2 separate regions of the Homo sapiens genome follow, and region 2 is linked to region 1. The links come from fine-mapping of genetic effects on gene expression. A gene starts in region 1. The other region holds a variant in brackets. All regions are shown on one strand. Distances are between the middles of the regions. Region 1 holds the start of EGFLAM (EGF like, fibronectin type III and laminin G domains). Region 2 overlaps EGFLAM (EGF like, fibronectin type III and laminin G domains).

Region 1 (5,377 bases):
AGTAATAAAAATAAAACTCTTCTAGGTTGAACCTAGTCTAAACACTTCTATCTCAAATTTGATGTAATTAATATGCCAAAGTATTTAAGAGGTGGTGTTTCCACTATCAAAACCCTATCTATGCTTCAAATAAAACCAAAGAGGCCAGCATGGCATATTCCTGGCATGAATATCAGAATGAGACCCTGAATGAACCAGGTAGAAAATCTTTTTAGGAGAAGAACTCCAAAAAATAAGAAGGAAAATATGATGACCCACATGAGCAGTTTTATACAACAGGTTTTTATAAAATGCTTTTTAAAAATTCCCCTTAAATGGATTAAAATATATCCTTTAAAAAGCATTGCATACACTGTTCATGCTTTAAAACTATAGATATAACTATGCTTTGTTTAAAAATTGTGACAATTAATAGATGATTTCATGTGAATAAATCTGCAAAATGCAATTGATCGTGATGTGGTTATCTTAAGGAGGAAAGTTAGAAAGAAGCCCTTCACTGAAATCCTTGAAGGTATATGTATGTGTGCGTGCAGGAAGAGAAACAATTTAATGTGATATTACCTTGGACTGAAGCTATTATCTCCAAAATGAATTGAAGAGCTCATAAATGGAGTGGCTCATAATTTAAATATGGTGTAGATTATGATAATGACCTTAGATTTCAAGGCAGGTAACAAGTGCTGGTAATAAGAGACACAGTGCAAAGACTGAGGACGCTTCCAGAGCCGAAATGCAACAAGTCATATTTCCAGATAGAGAGTTTCAATGCGAAAATATTTAAGCATTCACATGGGATCCCGCTAAGACGATTTTCTCTGCCCTCTGATAAATTTTCCTAGCTTTGCCTCTTTCTTACAGAAACGTTTGTGAAGACAAACTGCACTTTCTGTGAGGTTTTGCAGACTGCATTCAAATAAAAGTAATATTGTTTTCCATTGTTCATAAGATATAATTAATCCCATAAGACAACCTCCCTTACAAAGTAAGTTAAGACAAAACAGATTTTTCAGAATTCTAAATATGGTCCCAGCAAAAAGTAATAAAAATCGTTATTTGGGAAACAATGTTTAGAACTTCATTGTTCAGAATGTTCTACTTTGAATAATCTCACAGCATAGGCCAAATCAAAGTAGACCAAAATAAACGAAGACTTTTTACCTATATGCAGCTAGAGGAAACACACGTTATTATGGTTTCAAGTTCTCCCCCAATTCCCAGTCCCTTATAACAGGTTACAACGTACATTTCTTTGTTTAAATGCCAAAGCAAAGACAGGAGTTCAAAACACGGTAAAATTAACCCACTGGGTGCTTCCTTCTGAACAAATGGCCCCAGAGTGGAAGAGGATGCTAAGAGCAGAGTCCACATCCCTGCACAACGCGTGGGCAGGACCCGAGATGGGCAGAGGGGGCTCCAGGCAACCCTTCAGACACTTAACAGGAAATGGCTGGGCTCTGGACAATATGAATTGAGTAAAATGTTTGGAGACGCAGGAGGGGCTGGTTTGACTCCTCTGCATGGTTGCCATCCTCTGTAATTGAGACAGCACGATCGCTGTCCCAACTGTCAGCTCTCTGCGGTCAAACACGGGGACCACCACCTCTATCTACTATGTCTGGAAAATTGATCATTCTTTTAATAAATAAATATCCCTAGCGCCGCCCGGGCTCGGGGGAGGGCGAGGTTTGCGTCTTTTCTCAGCTCCTGGCAGAGCTGAAGCGAGTTAAGCAGACGTTGGTCGGGGAGAGGGAGGCGGTGCGCTGCCCGCTCTGTGTCCTCGCCCCGGAGCCCAGCAGGGGCGCTCGGGGCGTGGTGGCTCTGGGCGGAGGAGCGCATTACCTGGTTTTCGGATGGCCGCTCGGAGCGACACCGCGCCGGGTCCGAGGCTGGAAGCCAGGAGCAGGAGCCGGAGCAAGACGCCTCGGATTAAATCCATTTCGCAGCCGGCGCCTGCAAAGTTTCACCAAGTCCCGGGCGCACACGGAAAGGGCGTCTCCGGGGGCGCGTGGGGGACGCGGCCCCAACGGATCCCCGGGCCGGGGCGAGGAGGTGGGGGGCTGCGAGGGCTGGGCCCGGAAACACGGGTAGTTCCAAGAGGTAGGACTGCAGCCGGGAGGTCGGCGTGCGCGAGTGAAGCCGGCTGCAAGCTGCAGGGCTTTTCGCGGGGGCGGGGGCGACGAAGGAGGCCGACTGGGAGGGAAGGGCTGGCCGCGGGAGGGAGGGAGGCTCGACCGGCCCGGGGATGAAATTACAATCGAGTGGAAGTGAGAGGGACAGGCCCTGAAACCTTCACTCCTCGCCCACCTCGGAAGCAGACAGCCCGCCCCTCACCCTCTCTAGCGACCCCCAGCGCAGCCCTTCCCCGCTGGTGACCTAGATTGGGGACCTGGGAGGGACCGACTTCAAGCACTGGAGACGCAGGGCAGGAGTTAGGCGACTGCGGGTCCAGGACCCTCCGCGGTCCTCACCCTGAAATCTTGGGGCGCCCCCCCTCCACCCCACCTGGGCCCTCCTCCTGCCGCGCCCCTCTAGGCGACTTTTTCTAACACCTCAAAGGTTGCTGTAGTTGGTCCAGCGCACTTGGGGGATGCGAGGGGTAGACGGGGGTCTGTGATTTGCAAGTGGGGTGGGGGTGAGAGGAAGAGAGGCGGGACCGTCCGGGTCTGAGGCGCTAAGAAGATAAATGGGATTTAAGGCTCGCAGATGGAGAGCTGAGGCCAGGCCGCTCAGACTGGGACGCCGGGTGGAGATTAGGGCCTGGAGCGGGGGAGTGGGGGCCCTTCCCGGCAGAGGAAGGCAACTTGAGACCCTCCTGGGGAGGAGATGAAACTCCAAGTTAAGCCTGGCGTCTTAGGGAGGGACGCGAGCTCGAGCCCCCAGGCGGACCGAGAAAAGCCCCTGGGCGGCGCCCAGCTGGGCCTGGGGCAGGGGGCCGGGGCGGGGTCCTGGCCTCTGATCCCGGGATCGGGCTTCCTGGGTTGTCTCCTGAATGGAGAAAGACTCTTTCTCCGCCGCTGAATTTGCTGCCCTAGGACTCAGTAAAATGTACCTTTTGCCAGATTTCGCGGTAGTGCCTGGAGAGGGGAGACCCTGCCTGGGACACAAGTCCCGTTGCATACTGGCGTTCTGACCTCCAAACCAGCGAGAAGAGAAAGCAGATACAATAAATAAACCAAGAGGGAATAAACTTAGAGGCAAACGCGGCCCTCGGCAGTTCCTGGGGAAAGATCAAAGGCCGTAGGAAGTGCCCCGCAGAGGAAATCTGCAGTCACTAGCGACAGGACCGCGCCCGCCCCCTCCCCACCTTGCAACGCTGCCAGGACTCGGTGGGCGTCCTGGCTCTTCACAGTTAGCCTATGTTTGGGAGCGCGGGAGGAAACAATGTTGACTGATATATTCTTCTCCCCTCCCCAGCCCCCCAAACACACACACACAGGATTTCTACTCCTCTTTTAAGAATGAAATATCCCCTGGCTGGAGAGTTTGTAATGAGCTCAATCTTGTTAGTTAGCAAAGCTGAGTGTGTTCCCTTATGTGTTGGCATTTTCAAGTGTGCAATTGTCTGTTCACAAATAAATTCAAAGTCCCCTCCAACTTGAGTATTTGGAAGTTTTAGCTGTGACACCAGAGCTTGTCCTCTTACATAGAACTGGAGCAAAGTTCAGACAGAACTATGCTCTTCACGTCCAAGGTGACCATAAAGCCGGCCACTAAGCTAAGCAAAGTGACTGCCCCCAAGGCTGCTAGTCTCAAAGGTCTCAAAATCATAGACTTTTTAGCATTTTAAAGGTCATCTAGGCCATGCCTCCACTCCACGCAGGAGTCTGCTTTCAGCATTGGTGTCGGGTCGTGCCACCTCCCTTTGAACTCCACCTGTGTGAGAGAGCTCCTCCAGCGCCAGCTGAGAAGTTGTTAGAGGCCTTTCTTTATGCGAAAGTGATTTCTTATCTCGGACTTAATGTGGCACCCAGAACCAAGCGAGTGTTGCAATGCAGATGCCTCCCATGCAGGCTTTCCTACTTAAAAATGATTCTCTGTGATGCTGAAACTGGAAGTAATAATAATCGTTGATATTATGGCTACCATTTATTTAAGGTCTCCTATGTACCAGACCTTCTTTGAAGTGCATTTTAATCCCAATAACAACCATACCAGGAAGATACTGTCATTACTATTCTCGCCTTTTACAGGTGAGGAACCTGAAGCATGGGAAGGTTAAGAAACTTGCCCAAGGTCATGCAGCTCCCATGCAGCGCTTGAATCCAAGGGGTCTGATTCCAGCTTTCAGGCTTTTGAGAGAACAATGTGGAAAGTAAACACAGCAGTGGACTGAGAGGATCGGGAGATGTGGGTGTTTAATCCTAGGCTCTGCGTATAGTGTGCCTTGGTAAAAATGAATGGGCTGGACGAAACAATCAGTAAATTCCAGGTTTTGCTTTCTCTTTAATAGCTGATAAAACAGCATCATCTAATCTAAGCTACCTTTACTCTGCATGTGCCTTTTAACAGACCCTGTGCAAATTGTCCACTGCAAATTTCGCAAGCCTGGGCAGCCTTCTTGCCAATGTCCTCCTCATGTGCCCACACCACCTCGGCATCCCTGGCCCTGGGCCTCCCTTCCATTTTTTTGCAGATGACCATAGGCGATTTGGGAAATAGGCTTGGTTTCTTCAGAGACCCCTCTTGTTTTTTCCTTGGGGAAAAACAACATTAGATTATACTGTTGTATTTTTACCTCTGAGGGCCTGCAAACACTCTGGATCATCAGGCCATTGAGATAAGACCTTATTTCACAAAATCTGCTTCAAATCTAGAGCACATGTTACATTAAACTTATTCCCTTCCTTTGCAGTTCAAATCGCATCCTCCAAGGGAACTGGAAGATTCCCTCTCCTTCCAGTTTGAAAACCAACTATGGCATTTGTAAATCTGACTAAAGACAAATAGAACACTTGCCTTTCACTCTCTTCCTGCTTTCTGAGAGGAGGGGAACTAAAGAGGGGCCAAGAGGCTTTGAATGTTTCATTAAAAAAAAAAAAATCTGTTCAAATTCACTGGAGGTCTAAACTCAATTAATAAGGTCACCAGCAGAAGAGTGACCTGCCTACTTTGCTCATTATCATGGAAGAGGAATCTGACCTTTGCTGCATGGAATAGATTTGGAGGCTGGTAGAAGAAAGTAAAGGCAAACTTATCAATTATAGAATGTTTATTAAGACTCTAAATGAGAGTGACAAAGAGGCAGCAGCCAAGAATCATCTTTTGATTTATTTTTCTAAATTGGTTATATCTACATGTAAAATTTGAAATGCAGATCAGGCAGAGTGTATAGTGAAAAATAAGTTTCCTTTTCTTCCTTCTACCATCACCAGTT
Region 2 (5,377 bases), 110 kb before region 1:
ATTAAATGGGTTTTGTAGGTAAAGTGCCCAGCACATTGCCTGGCTCATAGTACATCTTCCCAATGGTAGCTCTGATACTTCAAATGTATTAATTTGAAGTATTTTGTATTATTTGAAATTTATTAATTTGAAGTAATTTGTTAATTTGTTAAATTAAAATTTAACAGTTTTAATTTAATTCAGATAGTGCTATTTGATAATTAGGTAATTTTATGTATGGGAAAATCATGTTTTGGAAGCAAAATAATAGTCTAAACCAATACCAAAATAAAAAATATAAATGTATCCTAGAATAAAGGGTTTTCCAAAATGTCAGAAGTGATCAAGGAGAAAAACCACGATTGAAATACTAATTATAGCACATGCTTTTGTATTCATGAAACAGGTCATCTAATAAATTTTGTTATTCTGATCTGAGTAACTGTGTATACCTAGAAGTGTAAAATTATGTCTATTTAAGAATGTTTCATAACTGAGAATTTTCATTGACTTAGCATGGTTTTGTCCACCTTCCCTACCCACAATTACTTTGAAATTTTAAAATTTTACTTCACATAACAGGCCAATTATAATAAAATCTCACAGATCTGTAAAACACTTTCATATAACTTATCCACTCAATCCAGAAAAGCAGGATCCAGCAATGGGGAAATTATAATCAGAAACTCTAAGACCAGATCAGTGTTTCCGTTAAAAAAGAAGCAGTATGAGGCCGGGCGTCATGGCTCATGCCTGTAATCCCAGCACTTTGGGAGGCCAAGGAGGGTGGATCACAAGGTCAGGAGTTCGAGACCATCCTGGCCAAAGAGACCAGCCTGGCCAACGTGGTGAAACCCCGTCTCTACTAAAAATACAAAAATTAGCCAGGCATGGTGGTGGGCACCTGCAATACCAGCTACTCGGAAGGCCGAGGCAGGAGAATTGCTTGAACCTGGGAGGCGGAGGTTGCAGTGAGCCGAGATCGCGCCATTGCACTCCAACCTGGGTGACAGAGTGAGTCTCTGAGTCAAGAAAAAAAAAAAAAGGAGCAGTATGAGAGGTGCCCCAACCCACCCATCCTTCCCTGACTCCAGTCTCTATGCGCACATCTAAATCAGCATGTGCTTGTTATATCTCATCTTTATTCTACATTCTTGACTCTACGGAGAAGGGAAAGCTAAGGGACAGACTGAAAGAGGTGAGCCTGGAGCAGCTCACGAAATGGGAGCAGGAGTTCCATGGGGAGGGTGGATGGGGACACAGCACCAAGTGGCTGCTCACTTTGTAGTGCAAAAAGACGAACTCAGTGTTTCAAAGTACTGTCGGCCCCTAGCTCCTGCTATTCCATAAAGTTCAGCCAAAGAGTAATCAAACAAGGCCTTCCTTTAAATCGAATCATCAACATTTCTTCTAGGAAGAATGCCGTCAGCCTTTGGAATGTGTCTGGGAAGTTTAAGCTTCTAAATTCTAAAGAAGAAGAGTGAAAACATTTTTTTTTCCTGGGTGATCAATAGTACTTATAGGGTGCACGAGCATGTGCATATGTGTGTGCGTGTGTGTGTGTGTATGTGTGTGTGCGCATGTGTGTGTTTTGGAGTATAGCCTCCCTATATAACCCAACAATTTAATTTGACAAAAGGCGACCCGACATTCAAGGTTAGGGTAGAGGTTGTTTTCAAAGGAGCCAAAATTCCTCAGATTTGGGGAACCTCCTGAATCTCTACCCCTGAACACAGCAGTGGCCTTGGATGTCAGCTGTGTGGGTGCTTTGTGAGGAGAGGAGATTATTCAGCTCTGCTAACCAATAAAAACAGGGCTTCATGTTGGCTGGTTAAGCCAGTTACCAGTGCTGCTTCCTTTCTGACAGCACATTTTCTGGGTAAAGAGGACCCAAAGGAGCAGCCGGGCTCTACCGGAGGAATGTATTGGCAATACTGAAAAGATCAGAATCTTCAAACAAAAAAGTGCCAACATTTTCATTCTCAACTCTCCCTGCTACACAGGGTTCTGAGTTTACAGAAATATACCCTCCACTCCCCAAATACAAAAAACGTCTAAAATGGGCTGGACTTGACAAAGTGTTCTAAGCTTTTGCCAATCCAAGAATGGTTCTTGGCATTGTGGGGGATTTTGTTAAAACCCACACCAAAAACAGAATCTGACTTTAACAAAACCCCCAGGTGATTTGATGAACACTGGCCCAAGTGTTCCTAGGCACTATGAGAACATACACCATTGGCTACAGCCCCAGCTCCATGTCAGCGCTCAACTTCTTTGATACTCCTCGACCATCATTCAGAGGAGTTGATGTTGTTTGAATATCCTTTATTTTCAGGCGAACACGAACGCTGAAGCCTCCAGGGGCCTTAGTTTTTTCTCCTATGGTTCTAAGATTAACTCATTTTCTCAAAATATGAAAAGGAGGGGGAAGGCTGCATATCATTTTGCTATGTGGTCTGTTGTGTGACTGTGAAAGAAAACTGACCTCAAACTTCCCAAGGATGATGCAAAAATAAATCCTCTGCTGACCTCCAGGACATAGAAACAGCCCGTGTCCCTGTTGACAGCCTCTAACTTCCAAAGGGCTGGGAAAACCACAGGAGGAAAGCCTGGGGTTAGCCCTTTTCCAGGCTGTCCTTCTGCACGGCATCCAGGTCAAGTGAGTCTTCATGAGGCAAGCCCAGATATGCAGCTCCCTTGGTCCCTCAGAAGGACCCTGGTACTCACAGAGGGTCCGGATGATGTCACTGGGCCAGCTGCGGGGGCTGGGGCCATGGGAATTCATTGCCCTCACGGCAAACTGGTAGTTGGTATCTGGATCGAGGCCCTTGATAACCATGGAGTCCATCTGGATCCGCTCATGGATTGAGGTCCACTTCTTGTCGAAATCTGGCCTTTATTGATTAGAAAAACAGAAGAAGCAGTAGTTCAGAAATACCAGAGGGAAGGGAAGCTAGCTGGCTATGTAAACTAATAGCATTTGAACTCTGGAAGCAATACTTGTAAAAGTAAGTTAACATTTCCTATCTGAAAGTAATCCTGATTTGAAATCACAAGTCATCATTTGCAAGTCCCTGCCGATAAAAACAAGTAGATTATTTTTAGGGTCAGTTGTAAACACTACTTAAAGACAATCCGTTTTTCCTTGCAAGGCCCTCACTATGATGAAAAGATCTTCACATAGGAATTC[G/A]CTTTCAAGGACTCTGCCTTCCAGATGTTCACAAACAATCCTCCCTTTGGCAGTCCCCATCCCCAGAGGTCAGAAGAACACAGATTCCGTCTATTCACAATCTGTTCACAAAATAAATATAAGTTTTATAGGGTGACTAATTGCATGAATTGTCATGGGAAAACCCAAGAAGAATCTGTTCACGGACATTCTTAGTCTTAATTATACAGCTACGCCAATGTGCTGAATTTTTACATGTCCTTTGGAGGGCCCTTCAGAGAAGGCAGACCTTTGCTTAGAGCTCCCATCTGGGAGGTAATACACAGAAGGCGGGAGGATGAGCTCTGGAGTTCAAATCCTGACTCTCCTACTTACTAGCTGCTACTTAATTCCTTTAAGACTCAGTTTTCCCATCTGTAAAATGAGAATAATAAAAGGATCTACCTAAGAGGACTGCCATAAAGATTAAATAAGATATATATCTCCAGCCTAGTACCTGGCATCAAATTGTAAACACTCAGCAGGTACCAGACATTATTCAAGGGACTTCTTCACAGAACTAGTAACTTATAGCTGCCTGCTTACTCTATACCTGCATGATCCAATATGGTACCACTACCCTATGTGGTAGTCAGTCATCACTTCAAATGTGTCTGAATTGAGATGTGCTATTGTGTAAAATGTACACTGGATTTTAAAGAAAAATAAAAAAGAATGTGAAATATCTCAATAGTTTTTATATGGGTTATATGTTCAAACGAGTATATTTTGGATACAGTGGGTTAAAATATATTATTGAAATTAATTTCATTTCTTTCTTCTTGCCCTTTAAATGCCACTCTTAGAAAACGTAAACTTTCAAATAGGCTGGCGTTGTATTTCTACTGGATAGCACTGCTCTATGTGGACATCCTAGCTGGAGGGGAGAAAAAAAGAACATTCCAGGTAATAAGAACTACAAGATAAAAGTTGGAAATAATTGTGCATGGCCTGCAGACAGTGTGAATGGCCTAAGGGGAGGAGAGGCTTTGTGTTAATGGCTAATAACGTCAAGGGCTTTCCATCTACCAAGCACCATTCTAATACCTTAACTCATTTACTTCTCAAAAATGCCCTATGCAGTAGGTACTAATATTAAACACTCCACCTTTTTTTTTTCTTTGACAGAGAAGGGAACTAAGGCACTGAACAGGTAAGTAACTTGCCCAAGGTCACATAGCTGATAAATGGTGAGGCCCACTTGGATTGGTAGGATGAGGTTAGATTTACAAGACCCTTAATACTGGATGAAAAGGGGGAGTGACGGTGGGCGGCAGACGATTCCCCATCCCTTTGCTTGCTCCCTGGCCACCTCTCAGGTGTTCTGTTGTTAAACACCTCTGCTCACAGATATTTAGAGGAAGGCAGGAAACAAAAAAGTTCTGTTTGTCTTTGAGGAGCAACTTACCAGGCAAGGAAATAGAGAGTCATTTTGCTAAAAGAAGATGCCGGGGTGAACAGCGGATTTCCTTAATGTGAGCTCGCCCAGTTTTTCATTAGCAGGAATGATTGAAAGCCAGATGGAGTCCTTATGCCCAATAAATGATGCTTCCTCAAGCTCACCAAGCTGGGGGTAGTGTGTTAACGTGTTTGGAAAAGCACAGTTCACAGGGTATGCCCATGGAGGAAGCAGGGCTGGTTTCTCTTTCCTGATATTCTTTTCCCAAAGATGGAATTCTCATGTAAACTAACTTTATCATCGAAGAGAAAACCTCGGTGAGTGGAAGGAAACACATTTACAAACTCAAATTAGAACAAAATCACTTCGCAGAGGAAAACCACAGGGGATACCTAAAAGTAAAGTCAGAAAAGATGTGATCTTTAGATAAAACTCTCTGCTATCGTTTGCTAAGCTTCCCTTGTGATATTTATAGAGGAAATAACCCATATCTATTCTCACAGTCTGCTGTTATTTACCGAGGACTACCTGCAAAGACCTGCAACAATCTTTATGTAAAAACTACAGCAAAACAAAAAGATGATTTTGTACATGTTGTCCATTTAATGCAGAAAAGAAAAACTCTTATTTCCAGCAAACAAGAGATTAAATCATTAGCATTTATTTTTATTCTATAGAGTGAGAGAGACAAGCTCATGCAGATTGAATGCCTGTTCAAAACCTTTAACATTTTGCCTCTGATTTTGTCATGAGTTTTTTATTTGAGTGTTTTTAGAGTCTCTTCAGGTACA

Evidence for each region.
Region 2: its variant is fine-mapped to the expression of EGFLAM in lung (TOPMed, PIP above 0.99).

Annotation. Positions count from the first base shown.
Region 1 is chr5:38,255,317-38,260,693 of GRCh38, reverse strand. EGFLAM (EGF like, fibronectin type III and laminin G domains) reads right to left here and starts at 2,135. Exons shown (of 22, transcript NM_152403.4): 1 at 1,843-2,135. The coding sequence starts at 1,939. It overlaps LOC124900966 (a long non-coding RNA gene), which reads left to right and starts at 2,028. Exons shown (of 2, transcript XR_007058739.1): 1 at 2,028-2,100; 2 at 3,063-3,597. RefSeq lists an enhancer at 3,004-3,505.
Region 2 is chr5:38,367,792-38,373,168 of GRCh38, reverse strand. EGFLAM (EGF like, fibronectin type III and laminin G domains) reads right to left here. Exons shown (of 22, transcript NM_152403.4): 6 at 2,707-2,873. Among named protein-coding and RNA genes, the nearest start is that of EGFLAM-AS2, 33 kb to the left of the region's middle. The variant G/A (reference allele first, on the strand shown) is at 3,170.